2 separate regions of the Homo sapiens genome follow, and region 2 is linked to region 1. A link means that fine-mapping ties the variant in region 1 to the expression of a gene that starts in the linked region. Tissue or cell type: lung. Region 1 holds a variant in brackets; the other region holds the start of a gene. All regions are shown on one strand. Distances are from middle to middle.

Region 1 (5,147 bases):
AAGCCTTATTGTGGTCCCCTGGTAGTGTTGGGGCTATATGAGAGTTAGGCAATAGAGTTTTGACCCAGGCCCAACTCACTGTAGGTCCACTGCATTCAGGAATCCACCCAGAGGTCCCTTTCCCAGGTTCTATGCATGATTCAATAGACGTATCTGGTGTTTTGAGAGCAGCCACATTGATTTCTTTTTTTTCTTTTCTTTTTTTTTTAGACGGAGTTTCATACTTGTTGCCCAGGCTGGAGTGCAATGGCACAATCTTGGCTCACCACAAACTCTGCCTCCCAGATTCAAGTGAGCTCTGTCACCCACGCTAGAGTGCAGTGGCATGATCGTAGCGTACTGCAACCTCCACCTCCTGGGCGCAAGAAATGCTCCCACCTCAGCCTCCTGAGTAGCTGGGACTACAGGTGTGCACCACCACGCCCGGCTACACCACGCCTGGTCTTGAATTCCTGGGCTCAAGGAGTCCTCTTGCCTCAGGCTACCAAAGTGCTGGGATTATAGGTGACAGCCACCGCACTCGGCCAAAATTGGAAGAATATATATATATATATACCCGGTGAAATAATCACCACAATCAAAAAAATGACTACATCCATCACTGAAAACTTTCCTTATGCCCTTCTGTGATCCTTTTCTCCCTCCCCCAAGGACCCCTTGGAGAGGCAAGGCAATGCCACAGGCAAGCACTGATCTGCTTTCTGTTTGATTCATTTGCGATTTCTAGAATTTTATATAGATGGAATCATACAATGTGTACTCTTTTGTCTGGCTTCTTTCCATTAGCATAATTATTTTGAGATTTATCTGTAGTGATGTGAATATCAATAGTTTATTATTATTTTTTCTTTTTTTCTTTTTTAGACAGGGTCTTGCTCTGTCACCCAGGTTGGAGTGCAGTTCATTCTTTTAAAATTGCTAAACAGTATTCCATAGCATGGATGTGCCATAATTTATGCATTCTTCTTTTTTTTTTTTTTTTGCCCCCGAGATGGAGTCTTGCTCTGTTGCCCAGTGGCTCTATCTCAGCTCACTGCAACCTCCGCCTCCCGGGTTTAATCGATACTCCTGCCTCAGCCTCCCGAGTAGCTGGGATTACAGGCACATGCCACCATGTGCCGCTAATTTTTGTATTTTTAGTAGAGGTGGAGTTTCACCATGTTGGCCAGACTGGTCTTGAACTCCTGACCTCATGATCCGCCCACCTCAGCCTCCCAAAGTGCTGGGACTACAGGGATGAGCCACTGTGCCTGGCTGCATTCTTCTGTTGATGGACACTTGGGTTGTTTCCAGTTTCTAACTATTACCAATAAAGTGTCTATACATATTACTGTGCAGGTCTTGTGTGGACTATGTTTTCATGAAACCTGGGTAAATCCCTACGAGTGAAGTGACTGAGTCATATGGCAGGTTTAACTTTTTTATTTTTGGAAACAGGGTCTTGCAGGCCAGGCGCGTGGCTCACGCCTGTAATCCCAGCACTTTGGGAGGCTGAGGTGGGTGGATCACCTGAGGTCAAGAGTTCAAGACTAGCCTGCCAACATGGTGAAACCCCATCTCTACTAAAATACAAAAATTAGCACATTGTGGTGGCACGTACCTGTAATCCTAGTTACTTGGGAGGCTGAGACAGGAGAATCGCTTGAACCTGGGAGGTGGAAGTTGCAGTGAGTGGAGATTGTGCCACTGCACTCCAGCCTGGTTGACAGAGCCTGGGTGACATGGCAAAACAGGGTCTCGCCATGTTACCCAGGCTAGTCTCTAACTCCTGGGCTGGGCTCAAGCCATCCACCCTCCTCCACCTCCCAAAGCCCAAAGTATTAGGTGTGAGCCACCATCCCTGGCTGTATGCTTAACTTCATAAGAACCTGCCAAACTGTCTTCCGAAATGGTTGTGCCATTTCACATTCCCACCAGCAGTGCATGAATGTCCCAGTTTCTTCACACCCTCACTACCACTTGCCATGGTGAGTCTCTTTGGTTGTAGCCATCCTAGTGGGTGTGTCGCGGTGTCTCTTCATGGTTTCAATGAGTGTTTCCCTAATGACTAATGATGTTGAGCATCTTTTCCTGTGCTTATTTGCCATCAGCTTATCTTCTTTGCTGAGGTGATTCTCCAAATCTTTTATCCATTTTATTTATTTATTTATTTATTTTTGAGACAGAGTCTTGCTTTGTCACCCAGGCTGGAGTGCATCGTCGCAATCTCAGCTCACTGCAACCTCTGCCTCCCGGGTTCAAGCAATTCTCCTGCCTCAGCTTCCCAAGTAGCTGGGATCACAGTTGCGTGCCACCACACCCGGTTAATTTTTGTATTTTTAGTAGAGATGGGGTTTCACCATGTTGGTCAGGCTGGTCTCGAACTCCTGACCTTGTGATCTGCCTGCCTTGGCATCCCAAAGTGCTGGGATTACAGGCGTGAGCCACCGTGCCCGGCCTACCCATTTTTTTTTAAAAAAAAAACAGAAACAAAAATGCTACAGCGCAAGTGGCTGTTCACAGCCTTCCCTTTCCTTTGTGTCATGAGGAGGTGCGAGTGTTTGGCTGCTCCTTATGGGGCCTTTGCTGTGGGAGTGGGCAGAGATGGGAAGAGCCCAGGCTGATCCATGTTAGAACAGACCTGGGAGTTTTTGCCGGAAATCCAGCAGTCCTGTTGGAGGGGATGGGAGGGGAGAGGAAGAGAAGGCTGGAAGCTTAGGGGGAGAGAAGCAGATGGGGAGAGGGGAGGAGATACTGGAGGATCTGCTTTAAAGCGCAGCTTTGGTCGGGGGTGGGAAGGACGACATCAGGAAGTTTTGCTTTGCATCATGAGATGGGAGCCTACTCTCCACAGTCCTCCCAAGAAAACTTGAAGCAAAGCTCTCCATGACTGCTCAGGGTTTTGGACCTGCGTTACTTTTGGCTATGTCACTACATTGAGATGACATGGAGAAGGGTGGGGGTGGTTTTATCTGGGTGTTACATAAACACTGAGCAGTTGTAGCTTTATTTGTGGTGCTGGCCTTCATGGACCACTGCCTGAGATAGCAACAGAAGTACAGCGGTGGAGAGGAGTGG[G/A]TGGAGAAGCATTTTAAAAATAATATATGTTAAGAATTTTAAAATTTGGGCCAGGTGCAGTGGCTCATGCCTGTAATCCCAGCACTTTGGTAGGCCAAGGCTGGCGGATCACTTGAGGTCAGGAGTTCAAGACCGGCCTGGCCAACATGTTGAAACCCCATCTCTACTAAAAATACAAAAATTAGCCGGGTGTGGTGGTGCGTGCCTGTAATCCCAGCTACATGGGATGCTGAGACAGAAGAATTGCTTGAACCTGGGAGGGAGAGGTTGCAGTAAGCCGAGATCAGGCTATTGCACTCCAACCTGGGTGACAGAGTGAGACTCTGTCTCAAAAAAAAAAAGAGGATAAATTTCGAAATGATTATAAACCCACAGGAAGTTGCAAAAAAAAAAAAAAGTTCGAGGAAGTTTCGTGTACGTTTCACCCAGTTTCCCCCAATGATAACATCTTCTCTAACTATGGTTTAATATCAAAGCCAGGACGCTGATGTTGATACAGTCCTCAGAGCTTGTTTGTACTTCATCAGTGTCACATGCACTCACTTGTGTGTGTTGTATGTATGCGTGTGAATAGTTCAATGCAATTTTATCACATGTGTAGGTTCGTGTAACCAGCACCACAATCAAGATACAGAATAATTATCACCACAGAAGTCCTTCATGCTAACCCTTTACCTATGTCCGCCCCCTCCTCCTCTGCCCCTAAACCCTGGCAACTGCTAATCTGATTTTCATCTGTCTATTTTGTCATTTCAAAAATGTTATATAAATGGAATCACACAGTATATGGCCTTTTGAACTGGCTCTTTTTCACTGAGCGTAATTTGCTTGAGATCCATCCAAGTTGTTGAATATATCAATTGTCGGTTCCTTTTTATTGCTGAGTAGTATTACATGGTATGGGGGTATCAAAGTTTCTTTAACCATTCACCCATTGAAGAGCATTTGTGTTTTTTCCAGTTTTTGGCAATTGTGAATAATGCTGCTGTGGACATTTGTGGCCAGGTGTTGGTGTGAACAGTTTTCATTTCTCTGTGATAAATGTGAGTGTGGTTTCTGGGTTTTATGGCCAGTATATATTTAGTTTTATAAGAGACTACCGGCTGGGCATGGTGGCTCACACCTGTAATCCCAGCACTTTGGGAGGCTGAAGCGGGAGGATCACCTGAGTTCAGGAGTTCAAGACCAGCCTGGCTAACATGGTAAAACCCCGTTTCTACTAAAAATACAAAAAATTAGCCAGGCATGATGGTGCGCACCTGTAATCCCAGCTACTCAGGAGGCTGAGGCAGGAGAATTGCTTGAACCCAGGAGGCGGAGGTTGCAGTGAGCCGAGATCTCACCATTGCACTCCAGCCTGGGCAACAAGAGCAAAACTCCATCTTAAAAAAAAAAAAAAAGAAAGAAAAAAAGAAAGAAACTACCAAGCTATTTTCCAGGGTGCCTGTACCATTTTACATTATTTTTTTTGTGAGATGGAGTCTTGCTCTGTTGCCCAGGATGGAGTGCAGTGGCCTGATCTTGGCTCACTGCAACCACCACCTCCCAGGTTCAAGCCATTCTCCTGCCTCAGACTCCTGAGTAGCTGGGATTACAGGTGCCCGCCACCACTCCTGGCTAATTTTTAAATATTTTTAGTAGAGATAGGGTTTCATCATGTTGGCCAGGCTGGTCTCAAACTCCTGACCTCAAGTAATCCACCTGCCTCTGTCTCCCAAAATGCTGGGATTACAGGCATGAGCCACCGTGCCTGGCCACATTCCTAACAGTAATGTGTGGTCTAGTTTTTCTGCATCCTCACTATCATTTGGTGTTATCACTATTTTTTTTTCTTTCTTTTTTTTTTTTTTTGAGGCAGGGTTTTGCTGTGTCACCCAGGCTGGAGTGCAGTGGCATAATCTCGGCTCAATGCAGCCTCGATCTCCTGGGCTCAAGCGATCCTCCCACCTCAGTCTCCCAAATAGCTGGGACTACAGGTGTGAGCCATCATGCCCAGCTAATTATTTTTTGTAGAGATTGGGTCTCACTATGTTGCCCAGGCTAGTCTTGAACTCCTGGGCTCAGGCAGTCTTTCCCCCTCAGCCTTCCAA
Region 2 (5,147 bases), 39 kb before region 1:
TTGTGGGGTGACCCTGGAGCCACCAGTTCCCTTCCTCACGCCCTCCCCAGCCCCACACAGCCTCAGGGTGTGGCCCCGCCCAAGCCCTGCTGTCCCAGGCTTCCTGATGCTCCTGTGTGCATGCTGACTGGGATGGTTTGTTATGTCTCTGCCCCCTGAAGAAACAGGGAATGCTTGTCTTTTTTATGAGTCGGAACCTCTCTCTGTCACCCAGGCTGGAGTGCAATGGTGCAATCCTAGCTCACTGCAACCTCGACCTCCCAGGCTCAAGTGATCCTCCCAGGCTCAAGTGATCCTCCCACCTTGGCCTCCCAAAACACTGGGATTACAGGCCTGAGCCGCTGTGCCACCCTGCTTTTGTCTTCAAGCCACAGGTGGTTAATGTTTTCCATGGTTCAATTCCTCTGGAGCTATTAGGACCTTTTTGCAATATTCTCATCCTACCTGTACTGTCATTTCCTTCATGTTTCTCTCTAAATTGGCAGTTTAAATAAAGCATGCTGATTGAACACCAGACTCCCAAAGGAGATGTTGTCTGGCTTTTGCTGCCTTTGTGGGTGGGGTGAATGCAAGAGGGTCCCAGGAGACTGGGAGGACTCACCTGCCAGTAGGAGAAGGGCCAGGGTCACTCTCTCCATGTCACAGTTCGAGGGGCAGGGCTGCAGGGGGAGAGGCACTGGGGCGGGGGTCTGCAGCCCACGGATCTGCTCCAGGCTCACAGCTCAATTGGTCAGCGAGAGGAGGCAGGGGCGGGGGCAGGCAGAGCCCCATGGTGAAAGTAGGTGTACAAACCCCAAGGATACACTTGCTTGTGGGGAGATCTTGGGAAAGTAACTACTTTCTGTCTTCCCATCTAGAGATGGTGGTGGCCTGGGGGAGTTGTGTGGATTGAGTAAGCACAAGCTAAGAGCTCAAAACTGTGCCTGCACAGAGTAAGTGCTGTAGAAGGCGTTGTTAAAATCCATGCGACAAACCCACCCCCTACTCCTCCCCATGAGGAAGATACTATTATTGTCTCTATTTCAGAGAAGAAAAAAAAAAATGGAGCTTAGAGAGGTGTAATCAGATGCCCAGGGTCAGGTGGCTGCTATTCTAAGTCAGGGTCTGGAGCCTGCCTTCCTAACCCCACACAAAGGGCATTGTTATCAGGCCCCAGGCTATTGTTCCCAAAGGTCTGGGCCTGGGGTGGCCAGAGTCCAGCACCCTCAGTCTGAATTCCCAGAGAGCCTCCACAAAAGCAAGGGTGTGGAGGAGGGAGGGAGTGCTGAGTCCTGGGATGAGATGACTGCAGCAGCCAGGACCTCCCCTGCCAGCCCTGGCAGGGGACCCTACTCCAGCAGACCCAGATTCTGCTCTCAGAGTATAGACCTCCTGTGGTATGACATTTCCCCCTCAGGTTGGAAGTAGCCAGGACCCCATTTACTTGTCCTTAGGGAGGCTGAGTCTTTGAGCGCAGGCCCCCTCCCAGCCCTCTGCATATTGTTAGCCTAGTGTGGTCAAGTTTTCAATACTGAAGCCATTGTCATCATCTGCTGTACCCAGCTCTGGCCTCCTGATGAGATCACAGATCCAGGGCCAGCTGTCTGGGCTGGGTCCCTTCTTAGCAACTTACCAACTGTGTGACTCTGCAGGTTCCTCACTGCTCCTTCACCAGTGTCCTGTAAAAGGAGGATCATCAGAATAGTAGCAACCTCATAAGGTTATAGCGATGGAATTACGTGAACTACTATTTGTCAAGCCTAAGAACTATGCCTAGCACACAGTAAGCACTAAAAACCTGTTACAATAAATACATCCATAGGCCGGGCGCAGTGGCTCACACCTATAATCCCAGCACTTTGGGAGGCTGAGGCGGGTGGATCACCTGAGGTCAGGAGTTCAAGATCAGCCTGGCCAACATGGCAAAACCCCATCTATACTAAAAATACAAAAATTAGCTGAGTGTGGTGACAGGCGCCTGTATTCCCAGCTACTTGGGAAGCTGAGGCAGGAGAATCACTTAAACCTGGAAGGTGGAGGTTGCAGTGAGCCGAGATCCTGGCACTGCACTCCAGCCTGGGCAACAGAGGGAGACTCCATCTCAAAATAAATAAATAAATACATCCATAAATAAACACATGGTCCTTCTGCAGTGGGAGGGAGGCACTGGAGGGAGAGACTGTTAGGCACTGCTTCTGAACATCGGTTCTTGGGCTAGGAGCAGTCTCCAAAGCTGGCTTCCCCCAGCCTTCACTGGTCTCTCTACCTTCACCAACCTGGAGTTCCTGGAATACGAGGGTCTCAACTCTAGGTCACATTTTTTATTTTATTATTATTATTATTACTATTTTTTTTTTTTTTGAGACAGGGTCTTGCTCTGTTACCCAGGATGGAGAGCAGTGGCGTGATCTCGGCTCACTGCAGCCTTGAACTCTCTTGGCTCAGGTGATCTCCTCACCTGAGTATCTCAAGCAGTTGGGACCAGAGGTATACCCCACCAGCTCATATATTCTTTAGCCAAGGGCTGGCTTCTGTTTCCTCCAACCCCCAACCCACCATCCATATGATAGTGGGTGCAAAGCAGGAGGCCTTCAAGCGGCTGCTGCAGCCATATCTGTCCTCAGACCCCTCAACAGGCTCCTCATTACTCAGAATTCTTGGGCACCCACCCCCTTCACCCAGCAGCCCCAAAGTGGACGCCTGCTCACCTGCGAGGTCACCTTGGCGAGGGCTCACCTGAGCTGGCAGCGCAGAGAACGGATCTGAGGAGGCTGCTGGGCACGTGGGTCGGCTCTTTAAACCCTGCAGCCACGCCCAGGGCTCCATGACGCAGGCTGGAGGGAACTGGTCAGGCTCCCTGCCACACCCAGGGCTGTTGGGGAGGGGCGGGCTGGGCCGAAGACCCTCTTTTGGCTTCTTTTTTTTTTTTTTTTTTTTTTTTTTTTCTTTTTTTGAGATGGAGTCTCACTCTGTCACCCGGGCTGGAGTGCAGTGATGCAATCTCAGCTCACTGCAACCTCTGCCTCCTGGGTTCAAGCAATTCCCCTGCCTCAGGCTCCCGAGTAGCTGGGACTACAGGTGCACGCCACCACACCTGGCTAATTTTTTTTGTATTTTAGTAGAGATGGGGTTTCAATGTGTTGCCCAGGCTGGTCTCCAACTCCTGAGCTCAGGCAATCCGCCCACCTCGGCCTCCCAAAGTGCTAGGATTACAAGCGTGAGCCACCGCGCCCAGCCTTTCTTTTGGCTTCTTTAGCTCACCCAGATCCTAAAAGAGGGACCTGGAGGGTGCTGGGCAGGGTGTTCCTGGGCTCTTGTGCCAGCTTTGGGGGTTCTGGGACCTCTGTGTGGGGGTGTCCTGGGGACCACGGAGGATACCAGGAGCCAGGCACTGACCTTGAGGCTCCCTGTGCTCAGCAGTGCCATGCCACTGCTGTCACTTGGGCTGGGTGTCTACTGAAGGGAGGCTGGTGGCCGATGGGCACCCCCGGGGGTGGCTCACCCTCTGACAGGGCCCTGACACCCACTTAGCCTCCCCCACAGGTGAGGGATGGGGCCAGGAGGAGGATAGACGCCCCCGGCTGAGGAGTGGGCTGCCTCCCTCTGCAGACCTCAGGCCTGCCTTGTTGCTGGGGGCCAAAGTCACCCCACACAGGCGTGTGGAGGACCCCAGGCCTCCCTAGTCTGCTGTTACCCCTCCTTAATTCTTTTCCAAATGAGGGACACTTGTCCCTGTCCAGAAGGTAAGGGGGGATGGCTGACAAGGGATGGGGGTCTCTGGGCTGGGAGGGCTGGGGAGGGCAATGATGGTTTAGTTGGTTTGTTTGTTTATTTATATATTTATTTTTGAGCTGGAATTTCGCTCTGTCGCCCAAGCTGGAGTGCAGTGGCTCGATCTTGGCACACCACAACCTCCACCTCCCAGGTTCAAGCAATTCTGTCTCAGCCTCCCGAGTAGCTGGGATTACCGGCACACACCACTGTGCCCAGCTAATTTTTGTATTTTTAGTAGAGATGGGATTTCGCTATGTTGAGCAGGCTGGTCTCGAGCTCCTGACCTCAGGCGATCCACTGCCTCGGCCTCCCAAAATGCTGGGATTACAGGTGTGAGACACTATGTCTGGCCCAGACATACTTTTAAGTGGAAAAAAAGTATAGGGCAGTCTGAATAGGATGCTGTCACTTGTGTAAAAATATAAAATATTGGTTGGGAAAGGCGGCTCACGCCTGTAACCCCAGCACTTTGGGAGGCTGAGGTGGGCCTGTGTCTGTGTGCATGCTGCATGGGGCTTAGCACAGAGGAGGCGTCCCGGTGTTTCCTCAGCCAGCTGTTTACTTGAGTTCATTGCATATATGACTGCACCTAGCCCTCACAGAAGTCTTTGGAGGTTCATACTCTCATTAGCCTGTCAATCTACAATAGTCAAACAGGTTAGATTTTAGTTTAAAGGAGTTTATTTAAGTGTAAAGGTTAAGGATGGCCTGCTCAGGAAGTAAGGATGGTAAAGAATGGAAGTCATGGCTGGGGGCGGTGGCTCACGGTTGTGATCCCAGCACTTTGGGAGGCTGAGGAGGGCAGAACATGAGATCAGGAGTTCAAGACCAGCCTGGCCAACAAGGTGAAACCCCGTCTCTACTAAAAATACAAAAATTAGCCGGGCGTGGTGGCGCGCTCCTGTAGTCCCAGCTACTTGGGAAACTGAGGCAGGAGAATCGCTTGAACCTGGGAGGCGGAGGTTGCAGTAAGCTGAGATCGTGCCACCGCACTCCAGCCTCAGCGACAGAGCGAGACTCCATCTTAAAAAAGAAAAAAAGAGAAGAATGGAAGTCAGAGTTTTAAAGTCTCGGTGGAGTGTGGGGGTTAAATCCTGACACTCTGGGAGGCCAAGGTGGGCAGATCACTTGAGCCCAGGAGTTTGAGACCAGTCTGGGCAACATAGCGAGACCCCATCTCTACAAAAAAAAATAGAACAAACAGCCTGGCGTGGTGGCACACACCTATACTCCAGCAGAGGTGGGAGGATCGCTTCAGCATGGGAGGTCAAGGCTGCTGTGAGCCCAGAAAGCACCACTGCACTCCAGCCTGGGTGACAGAGGGAGACCTGTCTCACAATAAATACGTAAAATGTAGAAGTTTGGGATCATTTATTTTATTTTTATTTTTTTGA

Evidence for each region. PIP is the estimated chance that this variant, and not a neighbour inherited with it, causes the effect.
Region 2: it holds the start of FXYD4, and the variant in region 1 is fine-mapped to the expression of FXYD4 in lung (TOPMed, PIP above 0.99).

The regions. Positions count from the first base shown.
Region 1 is chr10:43,330,694-43,335,840 of GRCh38, reverse strand. The region is part of intron 2 of LOC105378271 (a long non-coding RNA gene); the gene reads right to left. It overlaps LOC124902414 (a long non-coding RNA gene), which reads left to right. Exons shown (of 2, transcript XR_007062130.1): 2 at 211-1,327. Among named protein-coding and RNA genes, the nearest start is that of LINC02633, 10 kb to the right of the region's middle. The variant G/A (reference allele first, on the strand shown) is at 3,058.
Region 2 is chr10:43,369,238-43,374,384 of GRCh38, reverse strand. FXYD4 (FXYD domain containing ion transport regulator 4) reads right to left here and starts at 2,749. Exons shown (of 9, transcript NM_173160.3): 1 at 2,688-2,749; 2 at 1,613-1,658; 3 at 602-870. The coding sequence starts at 638.